Regions from separate parts of the Homo sapiens genome. Here all the other regions are reported to be linked to region 1. Evidence: microRNA targets listed by miRTarBase, many of them from high-throughput screens and not tested one by one. Region 1 holds a microRNA gene; each other region holds the end of a gene's coding sequence.
The links. Region 1 holds the annotated microRNA hsa-miR-181a-5p (AACAUUCAACGCUGUCGGUGAGU, at 3,198-3,220, shown strand). A microRNA usually pairs through its seed, bases 2 to 8, with sites in the 3' UTR of a target mRNA and lowers its output. Matches are read on the target gene's strand: a 7mer-m8 pairs with bases 2 to 8, a 7mer-A1 pairs with bases 2 to 7 and ends in A, and an 8mer does both.

Region 1 (7,123 bases):
TCAAAGATCACATAGCTAGTAAAATTCAAAGTCACGATTCTGGCTCCAAAATCTGCTCTTTACTATGCTGTAAATACTGCTTCTCCAAACATTTAATACATGAAATTTTTTAACTATGGTCATTTTAAAGGGAAAAAAAGCAAGAAGGCCAAAGAATCATCCAATTTGGAAAAGTTTATTATAATAAGGTATTTCATTTATTCTATTCTCGCACATATGAAACAAAAGCAATGGGAGACAAGAGAAGCAATTACATTTGCATGCTCTTTCAGATACATAACCTTATTGGATTTTCATGGCTGTGTGTGCAGGAAGGGCAAGTGCTATTTGTCTCACATTTTAAAGATGAGTTAACTGACACTCTGAGACATTAATCTCACTACTCACCATTACCTAAACATTTCTGCCTCTAAGATTTCCTGTACATGGTTTTCCATTGGAATTAGCCCCCTTTCTCTGTCTAGTAAAAATTCAACTAACCTTTTAAAGCTCAAACCAGGTTAACCTACTTAGATATACCTTTCCTGGCACTTGTAGGCAGAATTAACCCCTCTTTTCTCTGTTCTCCCTTAATATAGTTCACACCAATCCACCAGGCATCCTCTTTGTCATCAGTTATATTTACGTGTAGCTCCCTAGTCAGATAGTGGGCTCCAGGATGGCAAGGGTTTTATATACAGGAAAAACAATCCCTAGGATTCTACTGCCGAATCAGTAAAAGGATGAATCAGAAAACTAGCACAGTTTGGCAAAAAGAAACATGAATTCACACTGACATGCTGTTGTTATCTTCATAACTTAAGAATTTATCCTCACGGCTAGCAGCATTACCCCCAAACACTTATAGTGATGCTTCCTGCATGGTGCTTGGGAAACACCTAGGCAGACGGCACCTGAGACGATGACTCCTCTTCTATTAGCTACTAATCACTCAATTTTAGTTATGTGCTGCTGAAGCAAACATGCTACTAATCATCCAGATACATTGTTTTATTGAGTTTATGCTTATTTCTTCCAAGTATATCAAGAAGTCCCAGGAAGACTATGAAAACATTTACATCCCCATGTTGGAGACATGTGGGTTTCAATATTTCATGGTTTCTCTGGAATATTGGAAACCACCAATATTTCGTGGTTTCTCTGGAAAAGAAAGGAGGTATGTGAAATTAAGGAATGGCATGGTGAGTTCTAACAAACTCAAAACCAATCTAAATCAAGAGTTAAATAGTTGGATTGGCTTGTTAAATGTCAGCCTATAATTTTTTTTTTTAGAGACAGATTCTCACTCTGTCACCCAGGCTGGAGTGCAGTGGTGGATCACAACTCACTGTAACCTCAAACTCTTGGGCTTAAGGAATCCTCCCTCCTCAGCCTCCGAAAGTGCTGGGATTACATGTGCCACCCTGCCTGGTCACTCTTAGCTAATTTAACCCTTAACTTTTTTTAACCCTTAGACTTTATCCTTGCACCGAGTATATAAACCCCTTAGCCAAACTCACTTAAAAAACCCAAATGTGTGCTCAAACTTGCTTGATGATAAAAACTAAAGAACTTAAAGGAATGAGGATGATGAAGGCCATTATGCCATGATACACAATTATTTCAAATACAGTGGGCAACACCCCATGTCATTCCAGAAACCTACCTTTCTGTAGTTTTTCAAGTCTGTGAAAAGCATTCTTTTTAGAATGCTATGAATTTAAGGAATAATATTTTGTAAGCATCTAAAGGTTTGGTGAAGTCAAAATCAGTATTTTTTTTAAAGTCTAAATATTTATCCAAATAGTATAAGGCTTGACATCGCTTTATATTATTGGACCAAGAGGAAGACTTTTTAAAATAAACCCATTAAAAAGTTTTAAACATATTACACAGTTACAGTTGCCTGATTTTTTGTGTGTGTATACAATTTACTGTCATAACACTGAAAACTCAACAAAGCTGGCTAATGCAGAGTTTTGACAGAGGGTGAATTAAACTGATATAGAAGGTAAACAGTTTACATTCAAACCTAAATCTCAGTGGTTGATATTTTTTCTTTTAACGTGTACCATTTGGCTGCTTTAAAAATGAATTTGAGACCAGTCAGCCTTTAGTATTTAAACCTAAAGCAAATAGTAATAACTATCCCCATTTAGAGATTAACTTCAATTCAGCAGGCAGTTCTGTAAGCCCTTTTCCTATTAAGTATTCCTAGATCTGTCCCATTGTAAATCACATATTCTGAAGATTCATATTATTAATTCATTTTTCAAATTTTTCATCACAGACATTCAACAGAATCAAAAATAACCACTATGTCCTATAATGTACTGGTATCGTTTCAGCCAGAACAAATGACATCTGACATTTTAGTTACACTCTGTGTTCTCAACTAAGAAGAAATGCAAGCTTTACATTAGGTGGTGGGTTTTTGGTTTATTTTTTGCTTTTTCAATATGGAAAATAGCTTGTGGACTATCACTAACACCTCTGTGGTAACTTAGTAATGCAGGATCTCAGCAAAGGAGATCATCAATCATGGAGGTCGAGGTTTTTCATCTTCCCCTATGACCTCACCTATAGACCTACCTGCTATTATTATAGGCAAACAAGTAGAAGAAATTTACATGTTTGACTTTGGCTCTGCAGTGATGGGTCTACTCCTAGATATCAACAGTAAGTTCTGTAGTAGACAACAGAAGCAGTATGATGAGTGAGCACTGGAAACATGAAGTCCAGTATTCAAATTCTGGCTTATAACCTTGGCTCCTGGCAATGTAACTTTAGGCAAATCACTTCAAGTTTTTTCATCAGGAAAATGTGGGTTGTTGAGAATTTAATGAGATAAAATATACAAATCCTAGTATATAGCAGATCCCCAATATATGTTAATCTCTTACCCTTGTTAACAATTAAAATACTACTGCAAAATCAGGTATTTTACATTTTTAGAATCACAAAATAATACCATTCAAAGACATTTTCTCAGACATTCATTTGAGTCTGCTTGTACAAATTACTGCACAGTCTATCCCACAGTTCATTAGTTCTCTGCTGCACACAAATTGATTTTATAATTTAAATACTCTCGACTTGAAACCCAGAGAGGAATGTAAGAGCATCCATCAGCGGTGGTCTCACTGCTCACTGGTTCTTGGGATGTGGATGGGAGAATGAAGAAGGGCTATCAGGCCAGCCTTCAGAGGACTCCAAGGAACATTCAACGCTGTCGGTGAGTTTGGGATTTGAAAAAACCACTGACCGTTGACTGTACCTTGGGGTCCTTACAGACGACACTACATTTCCTGAAGCAAAAGAGCAAGCTGTACCTTCACATGTCACATGAGTTCACCAGAAATGGTCCTGCAATCCCCCAAATGTGGTCCAGTGAATTTTATTCCTACTGCTCACTGTTCCTTGCTTTCTGTTGTGTGTTTTATTATTATTTGTTTGTTTTTACAAAAAAAGTGTTTCATTTCAACAAGGTAAGGAGCAGTCCATGATGATATCTAATGTACCTACATGTCTCCTAGATATGCACCATTCTGGTGAGAAACAGGACGTAGCAAGTAAAAATTTATTAAAAATACGTATTTTGTTTTGGAATAAAATCCAGTTAAATAATTACTCCCATTTCTCCCACATCCTCTCAAAATTTTTAATTAGGGGCAAGGGGAGGATTTAATAAGCAAAAATAGCACAAAATTATCCAATTGTGACAGTTCTTATCACATTTCACTTTGAATTATAGTTAATATGGTTAATTTTTGATATCCCAGTTAGAGCATGAGCTATTGCCTTACTAGTGCCCACATATCCCCACATATGCTTATTTAAATGTTTGCTAAATTCAAGCAAAAACTTAGCCCTGGAGTCAGTCAGATCTGGGATGAATCTTGGCTCAAGCCCTTAACTAGTTATTTGACCCCCTAAGCAAGTGTCTCAGTTTTCTCACATATAAAACAGAGGCTAAGAGTACCTATCATGGAGTTTTGAGACTCAATGAGATAATATATAAGGTGCTTTGTACCATTACTAGCCCACAGCAAATGCTCAATATATGTAAGCTGTTATTATTAAACTCCAACATAATCTGCTAATTTACCTCAAAAAAGCACTCATACTTCTCAGTTCAAAACAAAGAGGAAAAGCAGGTCCCTCAGCTGTGGTTTACAGGTACTAATATGCAAGCACTGCCTGTGTGGCGCAGTGCTACCTGTGAGGTTCTCCAAGCACTCCTTCCTTCTCTGAACCACAGCTTCCTCATCTGCAATAACCTCCCAGCTCCAATGTCAATGTTATGGACACCTGTGTGGGCCCTCAATCATGCAGATGGCTGGTTACTAAGGGAGAAGCCAGACACACAGACTTCAAAGAACTGAGATGGAAAAGAAGAGCCAGGAGTCAGCCAGGGAGGGCAAAGGCAACCCCACCAACTGAAAACACTGATGGCTGCACTCAACATTCATTGCTGTCGGTGGGTTTGAGTCTGAATCAACTCACTGATCAATGAATGCAAACTGCGGACCAAACAACCCAAAGGAAGCAAAAGCATGTGCAGAGAGTCGCCTGAGTGCAGCAGCTACTGCTGTGAGTGGGAGCTGCTACTATTTCCAAAACACTAGCTAAAGCTTTTCTTGTTCTCCTTGGTTCTAACATGGAGTAAGTTCTCTAAATTCCTAGTACTTTTCTCCTTTTTCAATAGTCTAGATTTAAGGAAATGATATTTTATAGGAAGAATTAAATACATATCTGGATATCACATCACATTTTAAAAATCAGTACATTCAGAATTTCTAAACAGAATCATATGCTTATTATTTAGAAATTCAAATACAAAAATATACAAAGTAAAAATTGAAAATCCCTTCAATCATCATCTGCAATCCATTTCCTCGGAGGAAAACATGTATAATTATAATAAACTTATTAAGATAATAAATATCATAACTAGAATTTATTTTATATCCTTGAAGACCTTTATCCATACATACACAGATAAATAGCTGTAATTTTGCATGTTTTGGGGGGAGAGTGGCTTAGACAAAAATAAGCTCATTTTTACCTATTGTTCTATAATCTATTTTGTTATTCAGCTATATATCATAGACTTCCACAACAGTCTTTTATGTACTCGTCATTCTTTTAAATGGCTATATAGTATGACTTAATATGAATGTTCTGGTTATTATTCAGATGTACATCAATATTCTCTTTTGACAAAAACTATGAGGCTCATTCATTCTAACCTTTGCAAACCATGTCCCTCAAACAGGAAAAACACCTAAGTGAGATAGAAGATGTACATTTTTCTTAACAAAAAATTTAAATGTAGTATCAACTCTCTAAATCCTGTAACATGAGATAAGCCACTAAATCCCATGTTAAAGAAAGAAAAACAAGGCCCTTGGTCATGAATAATTTATCATACACTTAAGTCTAAGAAGAAGCAGATTCTCATAGCAAAAGTCAAATAAGACAGTAAGAGAAGAGTCTTGTCAAATTAGCCTTGACAATTAAGCAAGCCTTAATTTGACAAGGCTTTCCTGTCAAATTAGGAAGGAGAAGTGATGGGGTAATGAGACAAGAACCAGAAAGAGAAATCAAAGCCAAAAGAAAAATCTAAAGAAAACTATGAGAGTTCAGAGAAAATATCAGGTTCAAGCCAGTGTTTCCCAAACTTCTTGTACACCAGAATCATCTAGAGTTGCTTTTAAAATGGCAAATTCCTGAGCCCTACTCTAGACGAGGTGATTTTGGGTCACTGGAAGCTGGAAGCAAAGTAAATAAAGTTCACTAGCTTAACATCGGCTTCCTGCCCCCATCCCACCACCACATTTCATGTCATCCACTTTTCAACTATTGCCCAACCTTTTGTGTCACCACCTGAAATCGCCACTATTCTGCTGAGTGCAGACAGGTAGAGTCACATTTGTGCTGCTTTTAAGTATCTCCAGACTACATAAAATTTTGCACCATGTTTGGTGGCCAAATATACATCAAATTGTGTCTGATGTTTTATGGAAATGAATGGATTTGGATTTACGCTATCTAAAAAACTAAAACCTACCCAAAGAAATTACCAAAAGGTTTTTTTGTGTGTGTTTTTCTTTCGTTTGTTTGTTTTTTTGAGACAGTCTTGCTCTGTTTCCCAGGCTGGAGTACAGTGATGCGATCTCGGCTCACTGCAACCTCTGCTTCCTGGGTTCAAGTGATTCTCGTGCCTCAGCCTCTCAAGTAGCTGGCCCGCCACCACACCCAGTCAATTTTTGTGTTTTTAGAAGAAATGTGTTTTTAGTAGAGCCATGTTGGCCAGGCTGGTCTCAGACTCCTGACCTCAAGTGATCCGCCCGCCTCGGCCGCCCAAATTGCTGGGATTATAGGCATGAGTCACCGCGCCCGGCCCGAGGGGGTCTTTATAGAAGAGTTTTTTGTGAGACTGGTAGACACACAGAAGGTACTCCACGCAGTCTTGTTTTTCAAGATGCTGTGCATTCTAGGCATTTATTTTTAACCAATTATTTCCAAAATTTCTGAAAACATTAGAAAAGAATGTCTGACACGTACTTTGAAAAATGTACACTTGAACAAGCATGCTATTTATTTACAGACTATTACATAGTCTTTAAATATGCCAATGAAACAATTATATATTTCATTAAACCAAATCCAAGTTTTCTCTTGGATAAAACTAAGTACTACAAGAAGGGAGACAATTATGTAAGTTAAAGGGTGTTTTCTGCAGATAGGCCTCAAAATAAATACCTGTAACAGAAAAATTACATGGCATGTATAGGGGACAGGAAGAGAATAGTCCAGAGACTGTATTAGGGAGTCATAAGGAATGGCACTGAAAAGGTAAAAGGACATATTACAGAAGGACTTGTGAGCAAGGCGCAAAGTCAATTAGTCCAACAGAGAGCCGTTTTAAATGCTAAACTCAGCAAGGAGACAATGAAAGCAAGACTGGGAAGAGTCACTAAGCAGATGAAGTGAGGGGAAGAAAAGAGAAAAAAGAGAACTTTCTTGCACAAGTTAGCAGGGGTAGAACTGAGTCAACAGGAATGGAATGAAAGGAAAGGTTATCTCAAAAAGGCATACTTTGGCTTTTGTTTTTCAAAATAAAAGCCTACTGGCTGAC
Region 2 (7,123 bases), not on the chromosome of region 1:
TTAACAATTTCTTCTTCTGGAGTCCCACAATACTTTACATATACTTTAGTTATTGCATGTATTAAGTTGGTTTCTAGTTGCTTGAGTGTATGTCCAACTAGACTGTGAGCACACTGAGGGAAGGAATTTGGCTTGGAAAGTAAAATTGGCTCCCAGTGTTTTATCTAAACAAATAGGCTCAATTTACAACAGGATTCCATCCTCTTACGCTGTGTATTCCCATCTCTTCCATGCTGCATCCCACCACCCTTCAATGTTATTACAATAAAATTAAGATCAAATAATTTATTCAGCTAATTTTTCTTGTTTTGGACAAAATAGACATCCTAATACATTTATAGCCAAAGTTTAATCTAGACACTAAAAGGAGCATATTTTGCCTTTAGGCTCTGTATTTCCCATCCCGTTCCCAGTCAAGATAATCACAACTGTATTCTTTAGGAAATTCTTCACAAAGAACCAAACATATGTTACTATGAAACTAGATTCTTGGTATCCTGGTGAAAAAACCTGCCCTCTTGCTTGTCTGTAAATACTGGCCTTGGCTGGGTGTGGTAGCTCATGTCTATGATTCCAACACTTTGGGAGGCCAAGGTGGGAGGATCTCTTGAGCTTCAGTGTTTGAGACCAGCCTGGGCAACATAGTGAGATCCCATTTCTATAAAATTTTTTTTAAAAAGCTAGCCTGGCATGGGAGCTTGTGCCTGTAGTTCCAGCTACTTGGGAGGCTAAGATGGGAGGATTGATTGAGCACAGGAGGTCGAGGCTGCAGTGACTGCATTTCAGCCTGGGTGACAGAGGGAAATCCTGTCTCAAAAAAATTAAACAAATAAATAAATAAGTAAACACTTGCCTTGCCCTCAGACTTGAACAAACAACTCGTGATTTTTCTGGGGAGGTTCAGCCTGCCTATGCAGTACTCCTGTACTCTACCAGCAGTGTGGCATCAAGAGCATGTGTTGACCCTGTTAATGATTTGTAATGTTTTGTCTTTCAGAACCAGAGGCAGGAGAAGTGTCCCCTCCAGTCGGTGCGGGTGTCAACAGCAACAGCTGGACCTTTAAATACGGACCAGGCAACCCCAAACAATCCGGTCCCGGTGAGTTGCCCGACAAATTCATTATCCCAGGATCTCCTGCAATCATCTCCATCCGGCAGGAGCCTACTAACAGCCAAATTGACAAAAGTGACTTCATAACCTTCGGCAAAAAGGAGGAGACCAAGAAAAAGAAGAAAAAGAAGAAGGGTAACAAGACCCAGGAGAAAAAAGAGAAAGGGAACAGCACGACTGACAACAGTGACCAGTGAGGTCCTCAAATGGAAACAAGCCACTTAGCCAGTTTTTGTAATAATGGCAAATCTCTCCCATGTAGCAATTCCCTGCTCCTTTTTCCTATCTACATGAGCCCTCTTAGAGACCTCAGAAATCTGCAGAAAGTTCCCTGTGTCTGTCTAGAACGCATTTAACAGGTTTTGTCGTAAAAGCTTTACTAAGTCTGGTGTTAACTCTTTCTCTCCACTCTGGCTTGTTTTCAGAACCTAAAAAGCAGACCCAAGTTTCCTTTCTCCTCCGCCGCAAAGGAGAGGCTTCCCAGCCCCGCCAGTGAGAGGTTGGACTCTCTGCCCTGTGCTCCGGGGATCCTGTCTTGATGACACTTGCAGGGCAGGCTGAAAAGTTTTGAGATTGAGCAGCTTGGGAGTTTGTGGCCACTGGGTATGTGTGGCTACCGCGGGTATGCGAGTGCCAGATATTGGCTGAGACGAGCCAGCTTAGACTAATTGGTACAAGGAAGGCAAGAAAACAAAGACAAATAAACAGCGGAAGTTATCAGTATGGAGGGGAAGTGTAAACTTAAAGGGACCAGACTTTCTAAATCTTACAACTCAAGAGGTGGCAGCCACCCTCTAGGAGACAAAACTACCCCCACTGACAAGGCTTTAGGAGACCCTAAAGTCTGTTGGCTGTGACGTCATTATACCTAAAATCTGCATCATACCTGCAAGCCAACAGTTCAGTGTTTTAACAGAGAACCACCCTGGGAAACAGAAGCAGATCTGATGTGTTTCCTATACATGTCCTGTGCTCACTTTATTAAAAATTCTTTTGCACACAATGTTTATGAAAAGGCCAGATCCTTTTCCAATACTTATGCAAAAGCAAAAGAAAACCCCGACACCTCACCTTTCGCTGTTTGTTGTTTCATAGATTTATTTAAAAAAAGAGAAAGTCTATAGCTATAAATCTTTAAAGAGAAATATGAATACAATTCCCCTAAACTCTCCTCAAAAGAGAATTCAGTCTACAGCCATTTAAATGATCATTGCTGCTACAGAAGTGCTTTAAGAGAATTGCCTGAAACATCTGTATTATATCGGCCACCTGCCAATCACAGCTTTACTCTTTCAGGTCACTCTGGGGCTGCCTCTTGCATGTATTACTAAATAAAATGATCTCTCTTTCTCTCTCTCTCTCTCTTTTCTAAGAAACAATTATGTGCACTTTGATACACAACCTTCTCTAACCAACTATATATCAAGACCCAAAAATTGAAGAAAAATATTGTTTTCTCATACAGTGAGCAGATTTTTCAATCTACTAATTCTGTGACTTGTCTTGGTGTGCTAGCCTACACCTTCTCTTTGGTTTAGTTTTCCTTTTCTATAACACTCTGAATTGCTAATCTTACTAACACCTATGATGTTACCTGAAATCAATCTCCCATATGTATGCTGTATGCTATGCTAAGACTCCTGAAATATACTTACTCTGTGCTTGTGTATGTGAATGTTAATGCAACTATTACCTAGAGTGAACTTTAAGCTTTATTGTTGAATGTAATTCCATTATATTTCCTTTTGTACACCTGTGAAAAAGTGGAGTAGTGTTTTTTTAACCATTGTTAATCAGCTTTTGTGTATGAAAGACACAGTAAAATTTCTTTCTTAAATCAAGATACTGGTGATTCAAGGAATTTTATTTATGGTCCAGCCAAGAGCCATCTCGTGCCAAGACTTCTGCTGGCAAGGGAATGGATAAAGCTGTTTTGTTCTAGTAACAATTTTGGAATGAATACTGACAATATTCCATGAGGGTGTGCAAGCACAAATTTTACCAATCTGACCTCTTTGAAGTTGCAGAATGCTTTGAAATTCTAATGGTATCTGAAATATCAGCTCATAGAAAGTAACAAAATTTGCTGTCACCTTAAATAAGACATTTTAATTTTGTTATAATGTACAATTTAGAAGTTTGATTAATTATATTATCTATTTAGGCATTAATATAAAAGAGGTAGGAGTCTGTTATTTAAAAAAAGCATTAAATTTAAAAAAAAACTGTCTTGTCTACTTTTAGCTTCATTCTCCCATATTTTGAAGGGTGTGTAACTTCAGCTCTGCAGGATTGCATGGGGTAAAACTTGTTACCAACACATGTGAACCATTGCTACATTGTAGGTTGTGATCATTTTGCCCCACTGAAGCCCATGTATCTGACCTTACGTGCCTTTTGAACTAGGAGAATCGGGCTAATTTATTAATGATGATAATTATAATGTATCTGTACAGCACTTTTTACATTTGCGAAGTGCTTTCCAATCCATGTTAGTTACTAGTTATTACAGCTGTAAGGATAAAACACGTCATGTGGATTCATTTTGAATTGGTGCTATTGGTATTTCCTCTGTTATTGCTAATAAATGAAAATGGTGGTATGAAAGAAATGGTGGTCATTTCTAAGAATAGGAGGAAATAGAACACTGATAAGCAATTAATACTGAAGAAGATTGCTGCAGTATGAAACTCACTGTAACACTCTCTTATCACGTTAGCTTTTATGTCCATTACTAAGGCAAAAGCCCCAGTGGAATCAAGATTCAAACTTCATATCATTAGAATGGGCAGCCAGGAGGTTGCTGCGTCACTTTGTAGTTACACTATTTCAGTTTTCTCTAATAAGAATTGCAACAAACCCATTTTTATCACAAGAGCCCTTCTAGGCATCTTTTTCATTACTTGTTTAGCCCTTGCACCTCTCTACAATTGGAAAGCCAAGTGACACCCCAAAGAAATGAACTTTTAGGTCAGGGATAGTGGCTCTTGCCTGTAATCTCAGAACTTTGGAAGGCCAAGGCCAGAGGATGGCTTGAGGCCAGGAGTTCAAGATCAGCCTGGGCAGCATAGCGAGATCCCATCTGTACAAAAAGAAATAACTTTTATTGAGTACAGGGTGTATGCCAGCCACACTACTGCATAGGTTCAGCTGTGACAAATAGATTGTTTTGTCCTTTTGTAGTTAAATTTGTATAAATATAAGCTTTAGATGCTGTAGGTTCTCAGTTAGGAGCAATTTTGCCCTCCTGGGGACATTTGGCAACGTCTGAAGTCATTGTTGCTTTTCATTACTTGAAGTGGAGGGTGCTATTGGCATCTACTGGGTAGGGGGCAACGATGCTGTGAAACACCTGGCAATGCACAGGACAGCCCCCTATAACAAAGGATCTTACAGCCCAACATGTCAATGTCTCAAATCAAGATTGAGAAACCTTGAGATAGAGTGACCATATAATTTGTGTAGTCCACTTTTGAAATGGAACAGGAGACACCATTCGTTATTACTTCAGGATTCAAGATGTAAACTGGGACTGTCCCAGGCTAACTGGGATTTATAGGGACTCTATAAATAAACTGGTATAGCTGTGCCACTAACTAGATGGGGAATTTGAGGCAAACCACTACTTCTCTCAGTTTTTCAGTCATCTCTAAACTGGTCATAATTATAATACAGACCTTATAGATTTGTGAGGTAATCTTAAAAGGTTTTAGCAGGTCTGGCACACCATAGTACTCAATAAATATTATTATTTATTAATCCTTTTCTTCCATTTCCTTACCCCCTTTTCAGAGATTTAGCTATTAGACCCAGGGAACTTTTCCTACTGACTAAAATGTGAATGAGGGATGGCCAAAAAAATCAACATAGTCTTGGCAATAAAAATATTTTATTTACTCCTCCGCTCTTTTGCTCACCCCAGGAGGAAAAGAAATAAAGTCAGTTTCATAACTCCTTACCTATTTCTATCATAATAATAATCAAATCCCTAAGTAGTCAAGTGGCCAGTCTGTTTGCAGCTATTTCACCTCAATTATTGGTGATCTGAAAGCCAGAAACCAAAGGGTTTGAAGTACAACAGCTTGAGAGAGAAAGAGAAGAGTCACCTCCAACAACTTCTTTCGGCAGATGAGCAAAACAGAAATGCCAAATTACCCACAGACTTGCCTGGGATTTCACAGGCAATAAAGGACAAGACAGGTGCATCTCTCTCAAGGGTCAGGCTACTTGATATAAGTCTCACATATACAGAGTGCAGGATTCATTCTTTAGAAATATTGCAATTGATCTAATTTTAAAGGATGAGATTCTCCAATGAGTGTCTAGAGCCTTGGCTTTGAATTTTAGGCTCCTAGGTAAGATTGTAAGTGCCAGGATCTCATGTTAATGTATTTTACGTTTAAATTATAAACATTATGTTTGTTATAAACCCCAATCTAAAGTACAAATGTAACTGACCAAACACTAATGCAATTTTACTGTTAAATCTAGATTTAAAAACCATGCAAACATTAAGAGATACAATAAAACAAGTAAACAAACAAAACTACAGATACAGTTCCTCAAGACTTTCAGTCCCTGGAGCTTTTCCAGGAAATGGAAATGGAAATAAGTTGGCCACTCTTTGACCTATTTCATCATATTTTCATGTGCTTCCTTTCCTTGTAGAAAAAGCTGATTATGTTATTTCCCTCAAAATTACCTTGACTGTTGGCTGGCAGGACACAACTTGCAACCTGAGAAATTTCTTCTGGCTTTATGCACACACACACACACACGCGCACACACACACGCGTGCGCACAGTCATACGTGCACACACGCGTGCACACACATGCACACGCACACATGCTGACACACATGCACATGCACAGAGGTTCTTACTGTAACTAGGAGGGGGCTTTAGCAAATGAGCATGGTGCTGTCCTCCTTTTGAAACTGTGCCTAAGAGTGGTACATAGCAACCTTTTTGTTATAATCAGTCAGGTAAAATGTTTGCTGGGTCCCATTTTCTCTTGGGGTTGATCCATTGGGAAATGCCTGCTGACGTATGAAATCTTAAAAGTTTTTTGCCTAATAAAGTCTATCACCTTGTCTTTGAACTTAAGCTCCTCTGAGCTGGACACTAGTAAATTTACTTTCATAATATGAGTCTAGTTTGCATAAAGAAATAAGAAAGAGTAGGTAGTGAAAAACATAAAGTCCAGCATTTTGTTAGGTTACACAATTGTCGGGTGACTTGGGGATCATCAATCCACAAAGAACATGAGCAAGTCAGACAACCACTCAGCCAGTAGCTGGTCTTAGAGCAGAGCTAAAACAATTGGCACCCGAAGCATAAATATATGGGAGACTGACACAACAGTTCTCGTTTTAGAGTTTGCTTTCACTAGACTTACTTTATTTAGTTTTATGTGAAATTGAATTTTTATTATAAAAGGTAATACGTGTTCTTTAAAATAAATCAAATAAACCAGAGATATATAAAGAAAAATTATTAATCTCACCATCTTCTTTCAATTCTCTCTTACATGGGTATCCAATTTTAACAATTTCAAATGTGTTTCTCTGCATTTTTCTCTATACACACACATTTATATCACATACACATAGTTTTAAAAATAATTGTTTTCCTTTTTTTTCTTTGAGACAGGATCTCACTCTGTTGCCTAGGCTAGAGTGCAGTGGTGCGATCTCAGCTCACTGCAACCTCTGCCTCCCGGGTTCAAGCAATTCTCCTGCCTCAGCCTCCCAAGTAGCTGGGACTACAGGCGTGTGCCACCAGGCCCAGATAATTTCTTTTGTATTTTTAGTAGAGACAGGGTTTCACCATGTTGGCCAGGCTGGTCTCGAACTCCTGACCTCAGGTGATCTGCCCGCCTCGGCCTCCCAAAGTGCTAGGATTACAGGCATGAGCCACCGCGCCCAGCCTGTTTTCTTTTTTATATAAAAACAAAATGATGCCATGCTTGTTGCCCTGTAGATTTTTCTTTTAATTTACAATAACATGAAGA
Region 3 (7,123 bases), not on the chromosome of region 1:
AGAAAGAAATGAATAAAAATATAAAAATCTCAGCTACTTGGGAGGCTGAAATGGGAGAACCACTTGAGCCCAGGAGTTCAAGACCAGCCTGGGCAACATAGCAAGACCTGATCTCTACAAAAAACAAACACACAAAAATTAGCTGGGTGTGGTGGCTTGCACCTGTAGTCCCAGCTATTCAGGAGGCTGAGACAGGAGGATTGCTTGAGCCCAAGAGTTAGAGGCTACAGTGAGCTATTATCTTGCCACTGCACCCCAGCCTGGGCAACAGAGCAAGATCCTGGTATCTTAAACAAACAAAAAACTGCAGATGACTAACATGTTGTTAGTCATTAAGTTGCACATTTTTCATGATAAAAAATGATGCTGTGATCGTCATATCATTCATGACATAGGGTCAAACATGTTTACACAACAAGAAAATAGGAAATATATTTGCAGTATATGTGACAGAAAATGCTAATATTTGTATTGTATAATTAGCTTTTTAAAACATTAACATTCCAGTAGAGGCCAGGCACAGTGGCTCACACCTGTTATCCCAGCGCTTCGGGAGGCTAAGGCTGGAGGATTGCTTGAGCCTAGGAGTTTGAGGCTGCAGTGAGTATGAAAGCACCACCGCACTCCAGCCTGGATGACAGAGAAAGACTCTTATCTCAAAAAAAAAAAATTCTACATGTTTAACCTTACAAATAGATGCTAATGAAAAACCTTTTCAAAATCCTCCACCTTGGGCAAATATTTTTTAAAATAATAATACCCAATATTACTGTAGAACAGGAACACCTACCCCACTCTTGGTTGGGTGTCAATTGGTACAATTTCTCCAGAGGCCAATTCAACAATATGTATCAAAGCCTCAAAATCATTCATAATCTTTGGCAAAGAGTTCCATATCTAAGAAAGTCTTCAGTGATGGGCCATGTGCCGAGGCTCACACCTGTAATCCCAGCACTTTGAGAGGCCGAGGCAGGCAGATCACTAGGTCAGGAGATGGAGGCCATCCTGGCTAACACAGTGAAACCCCGTCTCTGCTAAAAATACAAAAAATTAGCTGGACGTGGTGGCATGAACCTGTGATCCCAGCTACTCAGGAGGCTGAGGCAGGAGAATCGGTTGAACCTGGGAGGTGAAGGTTGCAGTGAGCTGAGATCACATCACTGCACTCCAGCCTGGGTGACAGAGCAAGACTCCCTCTCAAAAAAAAAAAAGTCTTCAGTGATAATCACTCCAGTCAGAACAAAGGCACAGGCTGCAATAAGTCCATGGTGGTCTGGTACCACTTAGTGCAGCCCGGTTAGAGGGGCAGTGAGTGTGCCCTCAGGGCCTTTGGGAAAACCCAGGGCAGCTGATGCCAAGTGGGTATGCTCTGTCACTAAGAAATAATGCTTTGCTGCCATCTGGTGTTCTCCCAGATAATCGCACCCACCCCAGAGGAAAAACTCTCCAAGTTAGCACCGAGCAGCCCTTTCCTCTATTCTCCCCTACCCCGGAAGATGCGGGTCTCGCTCTGCCACCCAGGAGGGAGTGCAGTGGCGCAATCAGGGTTCACTGCAGCCTCAATATCCTGGCCTCAAGCGATCCTTCCATCTCAGCCCCCCAAGTAGCTGGAACTACAGGTGTGCACCACCACGCCCTGCTAATTTTTTGATTTTTTGTACAGACAGGGTCCCGCTATGTCGCCTAGGCTGGTCTCAAACTCTTGAGCTCTAGCCATCCGCCCACCTTGGCCTCCCAAATGTTGGGATTACAGGCGTGAGTCACTGCACCTGGCCTTCTCTATTTTTAACAAACCCTAATAAAGCATTTACTAGGTTCCAGGCGTTGTGCTCAGCACTTTACAAGCATTCCCTTTTTTAGTCCTCATAAGGGCCCCACGAAATAGGTAATTTTATCATCCCCATTTTACAAACGAGGGAACTAAAATACAGAGAAGCTAGGTAACTTGCCCAAAGTCACACAGCTACTAAGTGACTGAGTATTGGATTAGAACAAGATGGCAGTTTGGCACCAGTGTCTGTGCTCTTGACCACATCCTTTGTGAAGAGGATCCAGGGTCTGCATGGTGCTAACAGCACTTGGAGAGAACCTGACAGCCCATACAGCAACATCCTCTCCACATCCAGTACATCTGCCCCAAATAAGTCCATATCAGAACTGGGTTCGCTCATGCCCTATAGGCAGTCTAACCTGAGTCATGGACAACCACCAGTTCAGGCTAAATCCAATGAAGTTTTTTGGAAAAATCTTTACTTGTATTTCATATATACAAAAAGATATCAGAAATAATGTGGCTGAGCACAGCGACTCATGCCTTTAATCCCAGCACTTTGGGAGACCAAAGTGGGAGGATCGCTTGAGCCCAGGAGTTTGAGACCCCCTAGGCAATATAGTGAGACCTCATCTCTACAAGAAATTTAAAAATTAGCTAGCTTTGGTGGCGTGCATCTGTAGTCCCAGCTACCCGGGAGGCTGGGGCGGGTGGATAGCTTGAGCCTGGGAGATAGAGCCATGATCGTGTCACTGCACTCCAGCCCCGGTGACAGAGTGAGACCATGTCCCAGAAAAAAAAAAAAAAAGAGTATTAACAGTAGTGGTGCATCAGTAATGAGTTTGAACCCCAACAATTCACTGGCTTGTTTTCTACCATGGTATTAACACATGCAGAAAACCACCTGGGATATGAGTGCAATGAGACTTTTATAGCAATCCTACCCCTTCCTAGTAAACTGGCCCCCACTAACTACAGTTAATTGTGTCCTGCTGGACACATCTGCAGTTTTGGTAGCAGTTGCTTCATGGTGGAGCTGGGAAAGCTGCTTTTTTTTTTTCCTTTTTTTCTTCCTTTCTTTTATTTTTTTCTTTATTTTTTGAGACAGCATCTCACTCTGTTGCCAAGGCTGGAGTGCAGTGGCGCAATCTTGGCTCACTGCAACCTCCGCCCCCCAGGTTTAAGCAATTCTCTGCCTCAGCCTCCCGAGTAGCTGGGATTACAGGCACGTGACACCATGTCCAGCTAATTTTTGTATTTTTAGTAGAGATGGGGTTTCACCATCTTGGCCAGGCTGGTCTTGAACTCCTGACCTCGTGATCCACCCGCCTCGGCTCCCAGAGTGCTTGGATTACAGGCGTGAGCCGCTGCACCCAACCTAAGCCACCACGCCCGGCCATAAGCTTCTTATTTGTAACGGTCTAAGAAAGCAGTGGATAAATAATTAGTTGAGCGTGGTAGCTCTCATCTGTAGTCCCAGCTTCTTGGGAGGCTGAGGTGGGACAATTGCTTGAGCCCAGTAGTTTGAGGCTGCAGTGAGCCCTGATGGTGCCTTTTCACTCCAGCAGGGGCGACAGAGAGCGACCCTGTCTCAAAAGCAAAAACAAGAAGGTAGTGGCTCCTACTGGGGCTCAGAAAGCAATAACCCAAAATATGGCTCCTTGGTGTGCTGTGAATTAAAGAAGAATAGAAAGCCTCAGAAGCAGCCTCAAAAGCAAAGACTCTCTCTGACCATATCCTGCCCTGCTGTCTCCTGCCCCTTCCTCCTCCAAAGGGAGTCATAGAAAACAGAATCTGTCTTCCCCAAGGGAGGAAATAGAAACCAGAACCTCTTTTCAAAGCAAGCCATACCAGTCTGGGAAACATGGCAAAGTCCCATCTCTACAAAAAAATACAAAAAAAAATTTAGCTGGGCATGGTGGTATGCACCTGTGGTCCCAGCTACTTGGGAAGTTGGGGTGGGAGGATCACTTGAGCCTGAGAGGTTGAGGCTGCAGTGAGCCATGATTGTGCCACTGCACTCCAGCCTGGGCAACAGAGCAAGACCATCTCAAAAACAAAAACAGTAACAACAACAAAAAGCAAACCACAAAACCTAGAAATATTACTCTAACTTTCCCCCGCCTTTCTGTGCATGAGCTGGCCATAAAGAAATTCTCTGACCTGCCTTATCTAACAGTAGGTCATAAGACTGCCCCATACCCAGGAGGAAGGAATGCTACACAGAAAGGCCAAGAAGAATCTGAAGAGATAGTCCTTGCTGGGTTTCCCCACTTAGTCCATTACCATTAGATCGCACTTTTTGTCCAATCACATTTCTACACAATTGTCCACTCTTCGTCAAACCTAAGCAGAAAAATAAGACAGTTTTCCCTGGGTCTTTGGATTCTTCCTATCTGAAGCCTGCTGTGTCACATAAAACTTGGATTGACCACATTTGTTATGCTTTTCTCTTGTTACCCTGTCTTTTGTCACGGGGGTGTTGGCCATGACCTTTATGATGGGTGAGGAAAGGTATCACACCTTCTGCCCCTATACTCCCAAAGTTGTGAACCCTCAGGGCTCTGGGGGGTTATTAAAGGAGGGGGGAGCCCAGTGCTCAGCTAGCATTACTTGTAAAGCAGAGTTATTAACCCGGGGTCCACTGGCTCCTTAGCAAGTCTGTGAATGTCCTGGAGTCACATGCAGTTTCATGTGAGTGCCTTTTTCTCCCTAGGGAGAGGGCCCATTCCACATCTTTTATCTGATTTTCCAATTGGTCTGACTTTTCAGAAAGGATAATCATTCTTGTAAATCAGGAGTTTGCTAATGGCACACAGGCCAAATCCAGCCCAATGCTGGAATTTTGTACAACCCACAAGCTAAGATGGTTTTTATATTTTTAAACGGTTGAAAAAATTAAAAAGGAAAATATTAATTCATGACACATGAAAATTATATGAAATTCAAATTTGTGTCCATAAAGTTTTCTTGGAGTGCAATCATGCTTATTTGTTTACAGACTATCAGCTGCTTTTGTGCTACAAGGGCAGAGTTGAATAGTTACAACAGAGCATATGGCTTGAAAAGCCTAAAATATTGCCTATGTGGCCCTTTTCCAAAAACGTTTCCTAACCCTTGCCAAACATGGACCAGATAACACTACTTCTGACTATATATGTACCTCTATTTTTCACTTCTATGTAGATACCATTATGATTAATAAAGTTTAAATTCATGTTCTAATATAATTAATGCAGTAGATGTTAGTTTTTTGACCCCTCTCACTCTACTATAGAATTCCCACCATGTGAGTCTTGCTGGGGGGACAGAGTCCACCTCCCCACACCAAAGGTCAGATTTTCTTTTCTCCCGCCTTCTTGGCAGCCAGGACATGGACATGTGACTTGAGATCAGCCGACTAGAGATCTCAGCTAGGACTAGGAAGCTGGAGTGAGTCACACAAAAATGAGAAATCACTCTGGCAGTAGCGGAGACAACAGAAGTCACATCTAGCTTCCAGGAGCAGCAGGGCCAGCAGTTCAGGTGACTCCTGTAGCAATGATCCACTTGGAGTTGCATGTCAGTAGTGTCCTCACCAGACAGTCCCTAAGGCATGGTTTTGTCTTTGGACCTGCTGCCCGGCTTCTGTTTCTACTTGGCCAGGACGAGCTCAGGCAGTAGATAAAACTGAGTCCGAATCACTCACTGCCTGGAGCAGAGAGAAGCTGAAGGTCCAGGCTAATAAGTATGAACTCCAGGAGGACAGACAATGGCTGATGTATCTTTGTGTCCTTGGCACCCAAGACAGTGCCTGGGTCCAGACTTTGGGAGCTAGGCAGTTCTGCATCAGGAGTTCACTCACATGGTTTGCAAATTGCTGCTGGTTGTTGTTGGGAGGCCTCAGCTGCACTCCGTGTGGAATTCTCCACAGGGTGGCTTGAGTTCTCGTGACATAGCAGCTGGATTCCTACAGAATAAGCAATCCAAGAGCCTAAGGTGAAAACAGCAATACCTTTTATGATCTAGCCTCAGAAGTCACCCATTGTCACTCTGCCATTCTTTATTAGCCACACCCATCAGCTCCAATTCAATATGGAAGTTAACTATACAAGGGCATGAATACCAGGAAGTGAGGATCTTGGGGGCCATGTTGGAGGCTACTATACTTCACATGACCATTAACCCCTAAAACAAACCAAATGAAGGACAGATAAAGTGCGGACCATACATTTAGGTTGGTTTAATCAAAACTTCTTTGGTGGACTTCTTGATCTTCAAAATTGTGTATGCCATCTAGCCTTCTCCACATTTGTTCCTTATCTATGAAAGGGTCCAGGACTCTCCTTGGAAGGAAGGAAGGCCCAATCTTAAGGGTTCCTTTTGGTTCTCAGATCTCTGATTCTACAAAATAATCAGCAAAAATAAAGCTTTGAAGATATCCTTTAGGAGTTGACATTTACACTGGAATTTACAATTCAATAAAAACAGTGAGTCATTATAAGAATCATCTGCTTATTTATTTTACAGAGTAATGATTTAAATTGAGTACATTTGGGCACAGTAGATATTTGACACGAAAAATAGTTGTATCAGAATGAGCATCAGAAAAATAGCAACTCATCTTGCACATAATAACTAGAAAATATTATTCTGTCTGATCATTTAAGTGTTACAAATCCTGAGAATGTTATACATTGAACAAATTAGGTACTACCTTATAATTAAATCTCGCTTGGAAAGAATCCTTTAAAAAATACTCTGAGGTACAAATCACCTATGTATTAAACATGAGTCTCTGACATTATACAAAGAGTTTAAACAAATATATCAAACAATTACAGGCCAGTGGCTCTTAAAACAGCTATCAGTCAGGTTCAAGGACACACTGTTCCACAATTTCCCGTAAGTTGGGGTTTTCCATTGCAGCTGCCACTCGCTCTTTGTCATTTATCTGCTTATTGACTGAAAAATACACAGACAAAAGTTAGCAGAAGAACTGTGTCAATATACAGCACCAGACAGTATTTTTATTAGCCTGCTGAAACAAAAACTTTAACTCCTTGAGAACTTAAACCTGTTTTTGGCTAATTACTCATAATGTAATTTCCCATCTAGAAGGCAGACTTAAGAGAAAAATATCTACTAGAATTCTACTACTTAACCACATCTATTTTTTTCTTTCCAGTCTTTGTCCATACACATATTTTTATACAGTTACATTCAGAGTAAATATAATTTTGAAAATTGCTATTTTTTCCCCCATAAGCCTATATTTTAAACTACAGGGTTATTTAACATGGTAAAAGTCTTAAGTGTTCTAAAGTAATTATGAAGACTATGCTACAATGAATACCTTTAAACATATAGCCT
Region 4 (7,123 bases), not on the chromosome of region 1:
TGGAATACCCAGTACAGTTCTGCTTACTACACTTCAAGAAAGATCTGAAAGCGGAAAAAGAACCAAAGAAGGGCAGTTCAAGCGACCAAAGGGTGGGTGGAAGGTGCTGCAGTATGAATACTGTACGAATATTTTGACTCTGGTCTGAAAAGATAAAAGAATGTTATCGAAAACTACATGGAATAATTGAAGTCCCTTCAAGTTTGAAAGTAAGCATTTTAGGACAAATAAAAGGAAATTCAACTTTGTACTTGTGGAAACTAATCCCTAAATATGAATAGGTTTATATTGATTCATGGGTAACAGGTCCATAATAAATTATTGGAAACTAGGATGTCTGAATATCAAGGAAGACAGCCATAGTCTCTTACAGTGCCTCTGTTGGTCTGTCTCAAACTGAATTGGGTGGGAAAAGGTATGGTCCAATATAAAAGTTCCATTTTTGCCATTATTGGCAAATCTTGCCTTTGTTTATTTTGGTGCCAGTGTTTTCTGCTTAATCATTTGCTTTGTTGGCATCTGTGTTTATTTACTTGTACACCACATGCAGTTTACATCTGTCTTAACTACTCCTTCCCAGGTAAATTCCAATTATATTTGACATCCAGCTAAGAGGGCCCATCTCTTCTCACCTCTTTCCTAGTCAGTATATTCAGCAAATATTTATTGAGCCCTTACTGTGGGCAAATCATTGTACTGGATAATTGAGAAAAATAGATAATTCCCTTATTCAGTAAATGTCTACTGAGCACAATCTAGTGAATCATTACAGTATGGCCTCATTGTTTTGTTTGAGGTGTGTTATTCATAACAATATTTTACACCATTCGTATCAATGTAATTATAGAACACAATATACGATCAAGGATAAGTAATTGTGTGGTTATCTGCCATTTAAAAGTATCCAGTATTTGATCACATTATTATAAATAATGAAAAAATGATTTAATCTGTAATAAACTGGTTTATTGTGCAGTGACTGTAATATACTAGAGTTATAATAAATTGTTTACTCTGCCTCACCAAACACATGCTAGGATATAACCCCCAAAATAAGTATTTAACTTTGCATTAGGTATAAAGGAGACTGGGTGCTATAATTAGATTATTTTGAGGCAGACAGAGAGCTGTTATCCTAACTGATTTAGTATGTTCTGTAATTGAGAAAATGTTCACCAAATTATACTTTTTAGTGATTTACATGTACATTTTATAGGGGACATGTTCTGTGTATAGCGAATAAATAACTTTTATAGTATCACAAAATGTTTTGGATTCCTTAGTTTCTTATTAGGATATGATGTTTCTTTACCTATACATTGATTTCATCACATTTGATTTTTGTCATCTTTTTTGCCACATACTTAAAATTTTCCATATAAAATTAACTAAAAATCTGGAAGTGGAATTTAAGCTTTTAATTTGTAGCAATTTTGAAAATATAGCAGAGGTATATTTTCAAGGGAGGTGTGAAATGGAGGTATTATTGTTTGTATTTTATTTTAGAAATTTTGTTTGAACTTGCCCAAGATCACACAGCAAGTGTCAGATCCTAGGTTACAGCCCATAATTTTTCACTTGTTTCATCTTTTGTTACCATGTTTGTTGTTTAATCCAATGGGGAAGTGTTTTTATAGCTTTATTTTCATGGAGATAGTAACATTGATATAATGGGATCTAGAATTTACTTAGAGTCAAAGTGACTAGATTTAATTACAAAAAGTATTTTGTTGTATACCGTTATACACTCATTAACATAGGGGTTCTTATGGACAGAGGTTCTATGTATTTTTAAAAGAATATGTAGAGGCTATAGACTTTTTTGCCCTCTACCTCCCTTCTCCATTTCCTTTTGAAGTTAAGACATTTAAGGGGGAGAATTAAGGTGCATATTGAGTTGGGGTTTTGTTTAAAAAAAATTAGGTAAATACATATATAACTACAATAACAACAGTTGGTAGTTCTCTAAAATATTTAATTATGGTAAATCAGAAAAGGCCCTTTAATTTTTGCATCTGTTGAATGAATTGCTTTAGGATCTCTTCTGTGGTTGTTTCTCTCTATACTGAATGCTGTCAATATTATTGAGCACTTACTGTGCCGAACCATGTGCTTTTCAAATATTTCTATTTAATCCTAAAAACACTCCTGGGAAATGGGTATTATTCCCATTTTACAGATGAGAAAATTGTCCTTTGTAGAATACCCATCATGTGATAGCTTCTTGCATATTATGCTATTCATTTCTCACAACCTTACAAGGTAAATGGATAATGTTCCTGGATGAGAGATTAAACGTACTCGAAGATCTTATGGTTGTGTGGCTCAGAGACTCTAAGCATGGCTTTCCAAATCTCATTCTCTTGTAGAGATTTTCCATTGTATTGCATTTTGACCATGTTCCTGTTTACAAAACCTAAGATTATATTCTGAAGTATCTGTGACTTGAGTGATAGCTCAGGAATAATCTGAGGGCATTCTATTAGGAAGGAGGACTAGCAAAGCCTATAGTTAGCCTATCCTAGGCATGAACTATTCTCATTTTAGATAGGATGACTTGATAAATAGGATGAAGTGAGCAACCTGTTTGTCTTCGGTTATTGCTATCTACAAGACATTCTGCTAGTCACTGTGGAAAAGTTTCCTTCTCTTGGGTTTTTTCCTCTTCCCCTTCCTCTTAACAGTGTTGGTTATCTTTATTATGTTTCTGTGTATTTGTAACAGCTGTTTCACCCTTGTATTGCATAATGGGGATTTTTCTTGGAATAAAAAGTGAGGCATGTAAATTCATTGAGAACTAACCGTAGTTTGTAAAGAAGTAAAAGGCCTTTGTATCTAGTTTTTTGCAGATCACATTTCTTTGAATGCTGGAAAGTGAAATAAACTGGTCTAGGAGCCAAAAATAAATCTTGGGTTTTTTTAAGATTTTGCTCTTAGATTTGTAACCACCTGGGTACAACTTTTTCCTAATTTGTGTAAGAGGTTTTAGAGATGCACTCTGTCCCTCTTGCTTTACAAATTGCCTACAAGAATGCAACCAAAATACTAGAAACTGAAACTTACACAAAACCTTTCAGGTTTTTTCCTGTGTTGTAGTTCTAGGGAAGAGGATAGTTTATTAGTATTTATTTTAAGCTTAAGGATAGGTTTTGGACCTGGATTCCATCATAGTATAACTGCCATCGAAAAGAAGACAAATTGAAATTACAGCATTTACCTAAGGTTCACAGTATGGCTGACTTCAGCAGCCTTACATGGTAAGTTCTCTGTACCAGCTATTTTTGGTTCTCGCAATTGCATCGACTTGGGAAATTCCTATCACCATTCTCTATATAGGCTAACCAAAACTTTTATCAGTACCTTTCCTAAAGTATGAAGTTAGGTAATCTTCCACTCCCACTTCCATTTACTCATTTTGCTTGAGTCAAACCAAAAATCTAGTGTATTACTAGATTAGTCACTAAAAATCTAGTGTATTCAATATATACACTAGATTCAATATATAGCTTAAAAACTAACAGACACCTAGGCTGAGATTTGTCCAATACATGAAGTTCAATTCTGCAATCCTTGGCATTGTTCACAGAAATTACCCTGGAAACAAAATGAACACCCAAATGCTGGTTCTGCCTTAACTCCAAATTGTTAACTAGTTTGCATGAAAATAATACAGCTTTGCCATGGGACTAGTTGTAGCATTTTAAGGATTACTCAAACTAGTTTTAAGATGCCCTATCATTTGGAATCTGTATCAGAAAGGTGTGGTTGTGATGCTTTTCTTCTGAGGGGTCCCCTTATATACTTTTCATTTGTCAACATACTTAAAACACAAGGGTTCTTGTCAACTTGATAAATTTGCTTATAATTTTTTTTCTATGAACCTAGATCATGGAATTAACTTTCAAAAGCTTTGCGATGTTTTCCATGTGTGGCCTTTTTTTTGCTTTTTAATTAACACTACTGGGAGAGAGAAATCCTAAGTAGTTGCTTAACTGCATAGCTGTCAAATCCTAGTATCTTCTGTATCAGTCAGCAAACTAGTTGCCCCTTTTCAAGCCAACAGTCCTATCACATTTTAGTTGTGACCTTTTTTATATATACGTATATATATATGATCAGAAATGTAGTGGTTCATAGTTCTGGAGTCTGAGAAATCCAAGAGTTTGGAATATTGTGAGTGTATTATGAGCTTCAAGTCAGTGACAAGTAAAACACATTTTTAAAAAGAATATTAAGCAATCAAAACCATTTTTAAAATAAAACCAAGCCAATGGGGAAAAATTTTATTTAATTTTATGCTTCACATTCATATCATGTACATTAAGTACTACATAAACTTGTCTTTAGGCTATCAATATTTAACTTGGGCAGTACTTCATCTTGATTTATTTGGAGAAATACAGCTTAGGCATCTGCTTACCTGCTTAGGCATCAAGAGGTGCCAAATTAGAAAATAGGGCATTAACAATCAAAATTTTTAAGCTGACCCACATACTTGCTACTGGTTTCGCTTATGTTTAAGCATTTAAAGTTGGCAAAACATGTTATCAATGTATTATGCAAGAGTTTACATCTTTTGCATAAGTGGTCCATTGGGTTGCACCTACCCCTTGACCAAACAAAAACAAAACATCACTGGCACCATACTCGAAACTACCTGTATCCTAGGTTATAAGATTGTGAAAGCCAACAATCTATAAGGTTGGAGGGACTCTAGTTAATCTTTGGGCTTAGAGGAGGAAAAAAAGATAGTCCCATACTGCATTTCACATCTCTTAAAAATAGTTTTAGCAGCTTAAACCTTTTTAGTTATAAAACTTATTACACTAGGGTTTACTTTGAAATATAGTTTACAACCAAATCAAGTATAACATACATACACTGGCACTTTAGCACAAGGGCAAACTTTAAAAACAAGTTATTTTGGACCTTTAAAATTAGGCCATATTATAAAAAACAGTCCACGGTCTTACATTCAGCAAATTCATACTAAAATACTCCATTTTTGTAAGATAAAGGCCAAGAAAACTTTACATATGCTACAAGTTTATTACAGATATTTACATGGCTCTTTCTCCCCTAGGTACTTAAAATTTTCACATTATCCAACTCCCCAAAGCAAGCTTTGCAGGAATGATGAGGCCAGAGCACTATTAGAATAGCTTGTGCAGTGCTGTAATACAAAAATGTATTTTGAAAGCTATTGAGTGACCATTAAATACTGTTTCTATAAAAAATGGTTTTGGTGTATTTGTTGACAGACACTTAATCCACTACATTTAATAAACAGGGCCATTGGGGTGTACTATGTCTCATTCTAATGAGCTCCAAATGCCCTTTCCACCCACTGTACAATTCACTAAAATGCAATTATTACGAAAAATTCACATTTTCTTTCAGCAGTGCATCAGGTTAGCATATTACTGGTTTGGGTGTTTCTAATATACTAAACCTTCAGATGTTTACCTAATTCTGAATCCTTGTGTTAGCTAGAAGCTTATAATCCGATTCACCAACTTTCAACAATCTACTGGTCCATGAATGATAAATTACTGTCTTCCCCTAACAATAGAAAAAGCTGATTCCTTTACCACTCCCCAAATCTAAACTTGGTTTCCACTTAAAAGTTACTCAGTTGAGAACACTTAATATCAAGTACAATCATTAGTTTAAGTTGCACTGATACTACCATTATATCACAGTGCACACAACACGAGATGGTCTATTTTTTTTACATTAATTAGTTCTACACAAATAGATTCCCTAGCGAATTTGTTTCAGACCAATTGACAACTATCCGTGAACATAACTAAATTTAAACATTTGTCTTATTTTATACCTGTACTTTAAGTAAGGTTTTAAGTTGAAATGTCATTATTTCCTTATCTGAAGGATTAAAGGAAACAGGGACCCAGTGGCTTGGTGGTTTGGGAAGAACACTTGGTGATGGCGGCTCACTAAATTTGGCACCAGCATAGTTCTGATTAGCTTGAGATTTAAAAAGTAACCTGGGACCTGATAAGCTAGAATTCCAACTTTGATTATTTGGAAAATTTTTGTTCTTCCCCCCATTTTGCATGGCCTGCCAGGCAGCTGCTGATGAGTTATAACCATGTCCTCTTTCTTTTTTCTTATGAACAATCTTCATCTGGGAATTCTGTTCCTTGGTCTTCTGTCTGTTAAGCTGTTGTTGGTTCTTACTAACATTTCTAGATTGAGGGGCTGGAATGTTATACCTCTCTCCACCACCCATCTTCAGCTTCTTTGTCACCTACAAGTGAATGGAAACAAATATTGAGTAAAATTCCATTAAGAAAAGTTCAAAATCTTTAAGAAGCTTCTATGGCTCCAACTTATAACTCCAGATATTTTGGACAAGACTCAATAACAGGCTATTCAGCTGCTTTAAACTCAAAAAAGCAAGCCGTTCAGACTTCAATATATGCACAACCTTTATTGTTATACCTTCCCTAAGAAAAATGAGCTTACCCACAAATCTACATAATCTATTTTAAAATAAAAACAATTGGTTTAGGATGGTTCCATCATAAAATGTTTGCCCATTATGATGATTACCTTTCAGTCTGCTTTTCAGATTGCAGGATCTCCACTACCTGTCCTCTTCCTTGCTGCCAAGCCCAAGATAACAAGTGTTGCTTTCTGACAGATCCCTTCCTTTGTCTCAATACAGAAGTTTTCATGGGCCGATCTGCTGAGTTCAGCCTAGGAGCTGAGGCCAACATCTGAGTCTCCTCAGCACACAAGTTTGAGAGAAGTCCTAGCTAGAAAAGTAAAGATTACTTCATTATTTCAAAAACACGTTGAGAAAGTGATCATTTAGATTTACTACGAAAATCGTTGACTGTAAAGAAGGCTACTTCCTGAACTAAAAGGTAGAAAATTTCTCGTAAGATGGCTTTCTTTGACCTTATAACCACGACCATTTAAAAAAACTCTTCACCCTTGAGATCCAGTCACTCCTGGGGAATTTTTGTAAGTGTCTCCAAGTCCCGCAATAAGTTTTATCTTTATCTTTTTCCTGGGAAAGACCTTCAGATTCTCTCGCGTATAAAATCAAGGAAGTGTTAAATGTTGAGTCATATCAAAAAATTGGCTTCAGGCG

Region 2: miRTarBase lists PCDHA7 as a target of hsa-miR-181a-5p. Seed matches in the 3' UTR shown: 7mer-m8 at 2,783-2,789 and 8mer at 2,831-2,838.
Region 3: miRTarBase lists CIAO2A as a target of hsa-miR-181a-5p. The part of its 3' UTR that is shown has no 7-base or 8-base seed match.
Region 4: the mRNA of PNRC2 is a reported target of hsa-miR-181a-5p. Seed matches in the 3' UTR shown: 8mer at 4,971-4,978 and 7mer-m8 at 4,303-4,309.

The regions. Positions count from the first base shown.
Region 1 is chr9:124,689,283-124,696,405 of GRCh38, forward strand. It overlaps MIR181A2 (microRNA 181a-2), which reads left to right and starts at 3,160; the gene lies at 3,160-3,269. All of the region lies in intron 2 of NR6A1 (nuclear receptor subfamily 6 group A member 1), which reads right to left. All of the region lies in intron 1 of MIR181A2HG (MIR181A2 host gene), which reads left to right. It overlaps MIR181B2 (microRNA 181b-2), which reads left to right and starts at 4,428; the gene lies at 4,428-4,516. RefSeq lists an enhancer at 5,740-6,285.
Region 2 is chr5:141,008,630-141,015,752 of GRCh38, forward strand. It overlaps PCDHA7 (protocadherin alpha 7), which reads left to right. Exons shown (of 4, transcript NM_018910.3): 4 at 998-3,718. The coding sequence ends at 1,308. It overlaps PCDHA1 (protocadherin alpha 1), which reads left to right. Exons shown (of 4, transcript NM_018900.4): 4 at 998-3,718. The coding sequence ends at 1,308. It overlaps PCDHA2 (protocadherin alpha 2), which reads left to right. Exons shown (of 4, transcript NM_018905.3): 4 at 998-3,718. The coding sequence ends at 1,308. PCDHA3 (protocadherin alpha 3) reads left to right here. Exons shown (of 4, transcript NM_018906.3): 4 at 998-3,718. The coding sequence ends at 1,308. It also overlaps PCDHA4, PCDHA5, PCDHA6, PCDHA8, PCDHA9 and PCDHA10, and 7 more genes. Among named protein-coding and RNA genes, the nearest start is that of PCDHB1, 39 kb to the right of the region's middle.
Region 3 is chr15:64,066,314-64,073,436 of GRCh38, forward strand. CIAO2A (cytosolic iron-sulfur assembly component 2A) reads right to left here. Exons shown (of 5, transcript NM_032231.7): 5 at 6,252-6,715. The coding sequence ends at 6,618. Among named protein-coding and RNA genes, the nearest start is that of DAPK2, 23 kb to the left of the region's middle.
Region 4 is chr1:23,960,588-23,967,710 of GRCh38, reverse strand. PNRC2 (proline rich nuclear receptor coactivator 2) reads right to left here. Exons shown (of 3, transcript NM_017761.4): 2 at 6,577-6,782; 3 at 4,249-6,271. The coding sequence starts at 6,253. The coding sequence ends at 5,834. SRSF10 (serine and arginine rich splicing factor 10) reads left to right here. Exons shown (of 6, transcript NM_054016.4): 6 at 1-3,364. Among named protein-coding and RNA genes, the nearest start is that of PNRC2, 4.3 kb to the right of the region's middle.